3 separate regions of the Homo sapiens genome follow, and regions 1 and 2 are each linked to region 3. The links come from fine-mapping of genetic effects on gene expression. A gene starts in region 3. Each other region holds a variant in brackets. All regions are shown on one strand. Distances are between the middles of the regions. Region 1 overlaps LAMC3 (laminin subunit gamma 3). Region 2 overlaps LAMC3 (laminin subunit gamma 3). Region 3 holds the start of LAMC3 (laminin subunit gamma 3).

The links. PIP is the estimated chance that this variant, and not a neighbour inherited with it, causes the effect.
Region 1: its variant is fine-mapped to the expression of LAMC3 in whole blood (TOPMed, PIP above 0.99). The same link has a PIP of 0.9 or more in blood mononuclear cells.
Region 2: its variant is fine-mapped to the expression of LAMC3 in whole blood (TOPMed, PIP above 0.99).

What each region holds. Positions count from the first base shown.
Region 1 is chr9:131,039,008-131,041,507 of GRCh38, forward strand. LAMC3 (laminin subunit gamma 3) reads left to right here. Exons shown (of 28, transcript NM_006059.4): 5 at 1-45; 6 at 124-241. Among named protein-coding and RNA genes, the nearest start is that of LAMC3, 31 kb to the left of the region's middle. The variant A/G (reference allele first, on the strand shown) is at 1,248.
Region 2 is chr9:131,043,055-131,045,554 of GRCh38, forward strand. LAMC3 (laminin subunit gamma 3) reads left to right here. Exons shown (of 28, transcript NM_006059.4): 8 at 2,470-2,500. Among named protein-coding and RNA genes, the nearest start is that of LAMC3, 35 kb to the left of the region's middle. The variant C/T (reference allele first, on the strand shown) is at 1,168.
Region 3 is chr9:131,007,592-131,010,411 of GRCh38, forward strand. LAMC3 (laminin subunit gamma 3) reads left to right here and starts at 1,583. Exons shown (of 28, transcript NM_006059.4): 1 at 1,583-1,996. The coding sequence starts at 1,624.

The sequences.
Region 1 (2,500 bases), 31 kb after region 3:
GGGACCCGCGGATGCCATGCCAGCCCTGTGACTGCCAGTCGGCAGGTGAGTGGACTCCACATCCCCAGCCTCCGACCCTCTCCCTTTCCTGGCCTCAATTGCCCTGTGCCCTTCCTCTCCCAGGCTCCCTACACCTCCAGTGCGATGACACAGGCACCTGCGCCTGCAAGCCCACGGTGACTGGCTGGAAGTGTGACCGCTGTCTGCCCGGGTTCCACTCGCTCAGTGAGGGAGGCTGCAGGTGAGGGCGAGGGGCGGCCCAGTATGGACACATTGCACTGAATGACAAGAAGCAGGAGGAACAGGCTGTCAGCAGTCCCTCCCCTCCCCATCCCTTCCTGTCTGCAGCTACCTCGCCCTAATCCTGGTGAAGACTAGAGACACTCAGCTCCTGGAGAGGCCAAGAGACAAAAACAGACCTTAATGAGACCAGGCTGAGCCCTGTGGAAGCTCAGCGGATCTTGCAGGTGGAGGGCAGGCTTCCTGTAGGAGGTGCTGCATAAGTGCAGGGAGAGGGGAAGGACAGGTGTTTGAGGTGGGGTGGGGGGCACGGGAGGCCTCTGGAGGAGCCGTGGATCAGTGAGAAGCAGGAGTGGGTGAGGGGGAGGCTGCGTGGAGGCTACAGCAGGAACGCCTGGGCAGCCTGCATGGGGGTTTGACTGTGGAGAGGGAGAGCAGGGCAGATTCCAGAGCCCAGTGCAAGGAGGAGCTAATAGGACATGGTGACCAGGGGGTGGAAGAGGAAGAAGAGGTGGAGGCTGACCTTCGGGGTTCTCTGGGCCTCTGGATAGCAGGGCACGCAGTGTGGGGAGCGGGGTGGGAGAGGCTGAGTGTCATCTGGGTGCACCGAGTTTGGTACCTAGTGGGACAGCTGAGGGGAGAGAGGGACAGGGGCTCCTGGGGTCTGGACCTTACCCCAACACATTTGCCATCACTTGATTGAGAAAGTATACAATGGCCAAAAAACAAAAACAAAACAAAACAAAAACCTATGATAAATTTAGAAGCTTTTTTTTTTTTTTTTTGAGACAGATTCTTGTTTTGTCAACCAGGCTGGAATGCAGTGGTGCCATCTTGGCTCACTGCAACCTCCACCTCCCCGGTTCCAGCAATTCTCTGCCTCAGCCTTCTGAGTAGCTGGGATTACAAGCATGCACCACCATGCCCACTATCTCTATTTTTTTTTTTAAGATGGAGTCCTCCTCTGTCACCCAGGCTGAAGTGCAGTGGCGCGATCTCTACTCACT[A/G]CAACCTCCGCCTCCCAGACTCAAGTGATCCTCTCATCTCAGCCTCCTGAGTAGCTGAGATTACAAATGTGCACCACCACACCCGGCTAATTTTTGTATTTTTTGGTAGAGATGGGGTTTTGCCATGTTGCCCAAGCTGGTCTCAAGCTCCTGGGCTCAAGTAATCCACCCTCCTCGGCTTCCCAAAGTGCTGATTACAGACGTGAGTCACCGCGCCTGGCCCAGAAGCACTTTTAAGTGAACTTGCTTTGGTTGATAACGGGCATCTTTGTATATTTGAGAGGCAGCAGAAACACATTGGGGATATCTAGGAGAGCTCTGATTCCTTGTAAAATATTTGGTGGTTCTGGGCATAAAACTGACCATGAGATGGGGCCTGGCTGCTTCCCTGGGGTCCCTCTGTCCTCTGGACCTTTGCAGGTGCCACACCTCCCACCCCTGCCCCCTCTCCCCAGCCTGTGGCTCACAGCCTCCTGCTCATTCTTCAGGTCTCAGCTGAGCAGCCCCGCTCTCGGGACACCTTCCCTCCCACCTGCCCCTCGCCTGCACACCCAGGCTGAGTCAGAGGCCCCACAGTGCAGGCACAGCCTCTCGTACATCTCCCACAACACGTATCGCGGTACAGGGTCTGCGTGATCTGTCTGTCTACACCAGACTGGGATTCACCAGGGAGGAACCATGTCTTATTAGATGAGTGGATGGATGGAGGGAGGGATGGAAAGATGCATGGATGGGTGAATGAATGGGTGGATAGGTGGCTGCTGGACAGAAAGAAGGAAGGATGAATAAGTGGATGGAGGAGTGAGGGGATAGACAGAAAGATTCATGGAGGCCGAGCACGGTGGCTCATGTATGTAATCCTGGCACTTTGGGAGGCCAAGGCAGGTGGATCACCTGAGGTCACGAGTTAAAGACCAGTCTAGCCAACATGGTGAAACCCTGTCTCTACTAAAAATACAAAAATTAGCTGGACATGGTGATGCATGCCTGTAGTCCTAACTACTCAGGAGGCTGAGACAGGAGAATCACTTGAACCCAGGAGGCAGAGGTTGCAGTGAGCCAAGATCATGACACTGCGCTCCAGCCTGGGTGGCAAAGTGTGACTCTGTCCCAAAAAAAAAGATTCATGGATGATGAGTGAGTGCGTGGATGACAGATGGAAGGATCCTGGATGGATGTGTGGTGGGTGGGAAGATGGACCACTGTACCAGTGATGGATGGGTCACTTCCTTGGCAAGATGGGAACAGTAAAG
Region 2 (2,500 bases), 35 kb after region 3:
CATGAGCCCTACTATAACCTCAGGATCCTTCTTAACACCCTGCTTCAGGAAGCCCCTACCCACTGAGCTGGATTTTGAGCCTGTTTGCCATCTTTGCAGTCTGATCATGGTACAAATGGGGCATCTGAAGCTCTGCAAGTCAAAGGGGCTCTCCCAAGGCCAGGAAGTACATAAACTTCCTCTTTCAAGTGTTCAAGAGGCCTCCAAGCTCCAGCAGTGCGGCCAGCAGACAAACATGGGTTTAGCTCCTTGGGTACACACTATCTCTTCTTCCTGGCTTTGTGTCTGACATTCACCAGAGCTGCTTGGAGAAGTGGCAGATTCTGGGGCTGGGGCTGGAAAAAGACAAGATAAGCCCAAGGCGTCTTACAGTGCCAGGAAGCAAGGAAATGCTGAAAAACAGAGACAGACACAAACAAAACAGCCCAAACCAGAACGTGGGCCCATGTCAAAAGGACACAGGAGCCGACGTGAAAGAGCTCTCAGGGCTGAAACAATTTGAGCAACAAAATAAACGATAGTATTGGATTATAACCCAGAGAATAAAGTCAAATCCACGAATCCATACTGATGTAAATAGATGATTGAATACATAAATAGATGGGCATGAAGAGACAAACCTTCCTTGCAGAAGAATTCCAAGTAATGAATGTAGAAATGAAGGAACTGGAAAACCACTGTTCAGACCTCACAGTGGTAATTGCTACAGGCAAGAGCTGCCGATGAATGCTGACATTGGTGGGCAGAACTTTAAGGAAAGAGAGGATATTTGCATAACCTCAAAATATCTATTAATTACTGGGGTGGCTTTAACATCTGTCCGTGGGTTCTTTGATACTCTTCCTCTAGGAGGTCGAGCTTAATCCCCCTCTTTTTGAGACTGGGCTGCATTTAGTGACTTGCTGCTTTTTTTTTTTTTTTTGAGACGGAGTTTCGCTCTTTTGCTCAGGCTGGAGTGAAGTGGTATGATCTCGGCTCACTGCAACCTCTGTCTCCCGGGTTCAAGCGATTCTCCTGCCTCAGCCTCCTAAGTAGCTAGGATTATAGGCACCCACCACCACGCCTGGCTAATTTTTGTATTTTTAGTAGAGATGGGGTTTCACCATGTTGGTCAGGCTGATCTCGAACTGACCTCAGGTGATCCACCCACCTCGGCCTCCCAAAGTG[C/T]GTGAGCCGGCCAGGCGCGGTGGCTCATGCCTGTAATCCCAGCACTTTGGGAGGCCGAGGTGGATGGATCACGAGGTCAGGAGTTCAAGACCAGCCTGGCCAACATAGTGAAACCCTGTCTCTACTAAAAATACAAAAATTAGCCGGGCATGGTGGCGCACACCTGTAGTCCCAGCTACTTGGGAGGCTGAGGCAGGACAATTGTTTGAACCCGGGAGACAGAGGTTACAGTGAGCTGAAATCGTGCCACTGCACTCCAGCTTGGGCAACAGAGCGAGACTTCGTCTCAAAAAAAAATTTAAAGTGCTTGAGCCACCGCGTCCGGCCTATTCAGTGACTTGCTTCTAATGACTGGACCGTGGTGATTGCACAGTGGAGAGACTGGTAGACAGCACAGGTGATGAAAGTCAGCATCGCTTGGATGTCATGTGGGTTTCCTGTGCCCCCATGTGATATGACGAGAAGGGTACTTCACCTCTGTGTATTTCTTTCCCAAGCCTATAACTCTGGTCTAATCATGAGAAACATCAGACATTCTAAAAATACCTGATCAGTGCTTTTCAAAAAGTGTCAAGATAGTGGCAGACAAGGAAAGACTGAGAAGCGGTGATAGGTTGGAGGAGAACAAGGATACCACTAAATGCAACACCGTGTCCTGGATGGGATCCTGCAGCAGAAACCAGACATTAGAGGAAAAAGTGGAGAAATCCTATTAAAGTCGCTGGGCGCGGTGGCTCAAGCCTGAAATCCCAGTACTTTGGGAGGCTGAGGCGGGCGGATCCCCTGAGGTCAGGAGTTCGAGGTCAACCTGCCAACATGGTGAAATCCCGTTTCTACTAAAAATACAAAAATTAGCCGGGTGTGGTGGCAGGCGCCTGCAATCCCAGCTACCCGGGAGGCTGAGGCAGGAGAATCACTTGAACCCGGGAGGCGGAGGCTGCAGTGAGCCAAGATTGCACCATTGCACTCCAGCCTGGGCCACAGAACAAGACTCTGTCTCAAAAAAAAAAAAAAACAACAACAACAAAAAAACAAAACCTAATAAAGTCTGGAGTTTAGTTAACTTAGTTTTGACAAATGTACTGTGGTAATGTCAGATGTCAGCATCAGGGGAGGCTGTCTGAAGCAGGTATGGGAACAATCTGTAATGTTCTTACTACTCTTCTAGAATTCTGAAAAAAAATTGTTTTTAAGTTTCTGCAGTGATTCTAGACTCTCATTGGTCCAGCTGGGATACCCTGGCCCCGCCCCTTCCTGGCTGATTCACGTGGCCCTCGTGGGCATGTCCTGCCTCCATTTCAGATGTCGCCCGGGGACCTTTAACCTGCAGCCC
Region 3 (2,820 bases):
AGAAGATATAAATATTTATATCTTTTAAGTTTTTTGTCTTATTGTATTAGCTAGAACTTCCAAAATAACCTTAGGTACCAGTGGTGATATCATATACTAACTCTACTTAGATATAGTTCTGAAATCTCTAACTTATTCCATGGGTCTATTCTGTAGTCCTTTCCACAACCGTATTGTTTTAATCATGTGTAAATAACTGGTAGTGAATCAGCCCACTACAGTTCATCTTGCTTCCAAAAATTTTCTTTCTTTCTTTTCTTTCTTTTTTTTTTTTTTGATGGAGTTTCTCTCTTGTTGCCCAGGCTGGAGTGCAATGGCATGATCTCAGTTCACTGCAACTTCTGCCCCCCGGGTTCAAACAATTCTCCTGCCTCAGCCTCCTGAGTAGCTGGGATTACAGGCACGCACCGCCACACCCAGCTAATTTTTGTGTTTTTAGTAGAGACGGGGTTTCACTATGTTGGCCAGGCTGGTCTCGAACTCCTGACCTCAGGTGATCTGCCTTCCTCAACTTCCCAAAATGCTGGGATTATAGGCGAGAGCCACCGCGCCAGGCCAGGAAATTTATTTCTATTTTCCTTAGAGTTCGTCTGGGAATGGCTGCCTTTTTTTTTTTTTTTTTTTCGAGACAGGGTCTGACTCTGTTGGCCAGGCTGGAGTGCAATGGCATGATCACAGCCCACTGCAGCCTAACCTCCCGGGCTCAAGGGATCCTTCCACCTCAGCCTCCCAGGTAGCTGGGACTACAGGCTTGTGCCATGACGCCGGGCTAATTTTTGTATTTTTTTGTAGAGATAGGGTCTCACTATTTTGCCCAGGTTGGTCTCGAACTCCTGGCCTCAAGTTATCCTTCCGCCTCCACCTCCCAAAGTGCTAGGATTACAGGCGTGAGCCACCGCGCACGACCTGGCTGCTAAATTTTATCGAATGACTTCTCTCCCTCGATTTGCTAATGTTAATAAATGGGGAGTAAAGGGGGCATTTATGGGGGTTGGGGCAGAAGACAAGGAAGCCCTCTCTGAGGTGACATTTGTGATAAGACCAGGTACCCTTGTCACAAATGTCAGGTTAGAATCTCTTTGCTGTGGGGACAGAGCGCAGCCGGCAGCAGGAGTGCTTTTCAGGGTTAAGGGCGACAGGAGCTATGCGGAGCCATCTCACAACCCTGTCCAGGGCACACTTTATTGCTAGGAGGAGATGCGCAAACGGTAGCGATCAGTTAGAGATAGATCCTCTTGTCCCCTTTTATCTCAGGACTCCAAGGCACTGCTGAACAGTTTCTGTTTAATGAGCAGCCATTGAAGCCTCCCAATGGCGAGAATGAGCCTGCATCTTTACCGACCCCACTCCACAGACGAGGAAACTGAGGCTCAAAGAGGCCCGGGTCGCCTCTGGGGCAGACTCCCGAGCCGCGCACTGCCGGGCACGTCCAGCAGGTGGGAGTGGGCGCCCGGGGACGGCGCGGTCCCTGGTATTTTTAGTGGGGTGGGGCCGCCGCCGCCCGCCCCTCCCTCCAGCCTCCCCGCCCCGCAGGGGAAGGCGGGTCCTGGCGGCCAGCGCGCGGTCCGCGCCCACCCTAGCCGAGCGGGGCCGGCAGAGCGCGCGGCGTCGGTGCCCTTGACCATGGCGGCGGCTGCGCTTCTGCTGGGGCTGGCGCTGCTGGCACCGCGGGCGGCCGGCGCGGGCATGGGCGCGTGCTATGACGGCGCAGGGCGCCCGCAGCGCTGCCTGCCGGTGTTCGAGAACGCGGCGTTTGGGCGGCTCGCCCAGGCCTCGCACACGTGCGGCAGCCCGCCCGAGGACTTCTGTCCCCACGTGGGCGCCGCGGGCGCGGGGGCTCATTGCCAGCGCTGCGACGCCGCCGACCCCCAGCGCCACCACAACGCCTCCTACCTCACCGACTTCCACAGCCAGGACGAGAGCACCTGGTGGCAGAGCCCGTCCATGGCCTTCGGCGTGCAGTACCCCACCTCGGTCAACATCACCCTCCGCCTAGGTAAGCGCGGGCTGGGGGCACCGCCACCGCACCCCGTGTCCCCACTCCACTGGGGGTCTGAGGCTGAGGCCTGAGCTGCTGTGCGCCCAGGTTGGGCTGCAGGACCCAGATATGGTGTTGGATGGAGGGGCTCAGAAATAGGAATTAGGCTGGGTGCGGTGGCTCACTCCTGAAATCCCAGCACTTTGGGAGGCCGAGATGGGAGGGTCGCTTGAGCCCAGGAGTTCAAGATCAGCCTGGGCAACGTAGTGAGATCCCATCTTTACAAAAAATAAAGAAAAATAGGCCGGGCGCGGTGGCTGACGTCTGTAATCCCAGCACTTTGGGAGGCCGAGGCGGGCGGATCACCTGAGGTCAGGAGTTCGAGACCAGCCTGGCCAACATGGTGAAAACCCGTCTCTACTAAAAATAGAAAATTTGGCCGGGCGTGGTGGTAGGTGCCTGTAGTTCCAGCTACTCAGGAGGCTGGGGCAGGAGAATCGCTTGAACCCGGGAGGTGGAGGTTGCCGTGAGCCGAGGTCGCACCACCGTTCTCCAGCCTGGGCAACAGAGCTAACTCCGTCTCAAAAAAAAAAAAAAAAAAAAAAAAAAGCTGGGCGTGGTGGTGCACACCTATGGTCCCAGCTACTCAAGAGGCTGAGGCAGGAGGATCACTTAAGACTGAGAGGTTGAGGCTGCATGAAATATGATAGTGCCACTGTGCTACAGCCTGGGCTACAGAGTGAGACCTTATCTCTTAATAAAAAGAAAGAATGAAAAAAAGAAGAAAAAAAAACAGGACCTGTACCCCTAGATAGCCAGAAGGATAGACTGAGGGGTGCCCC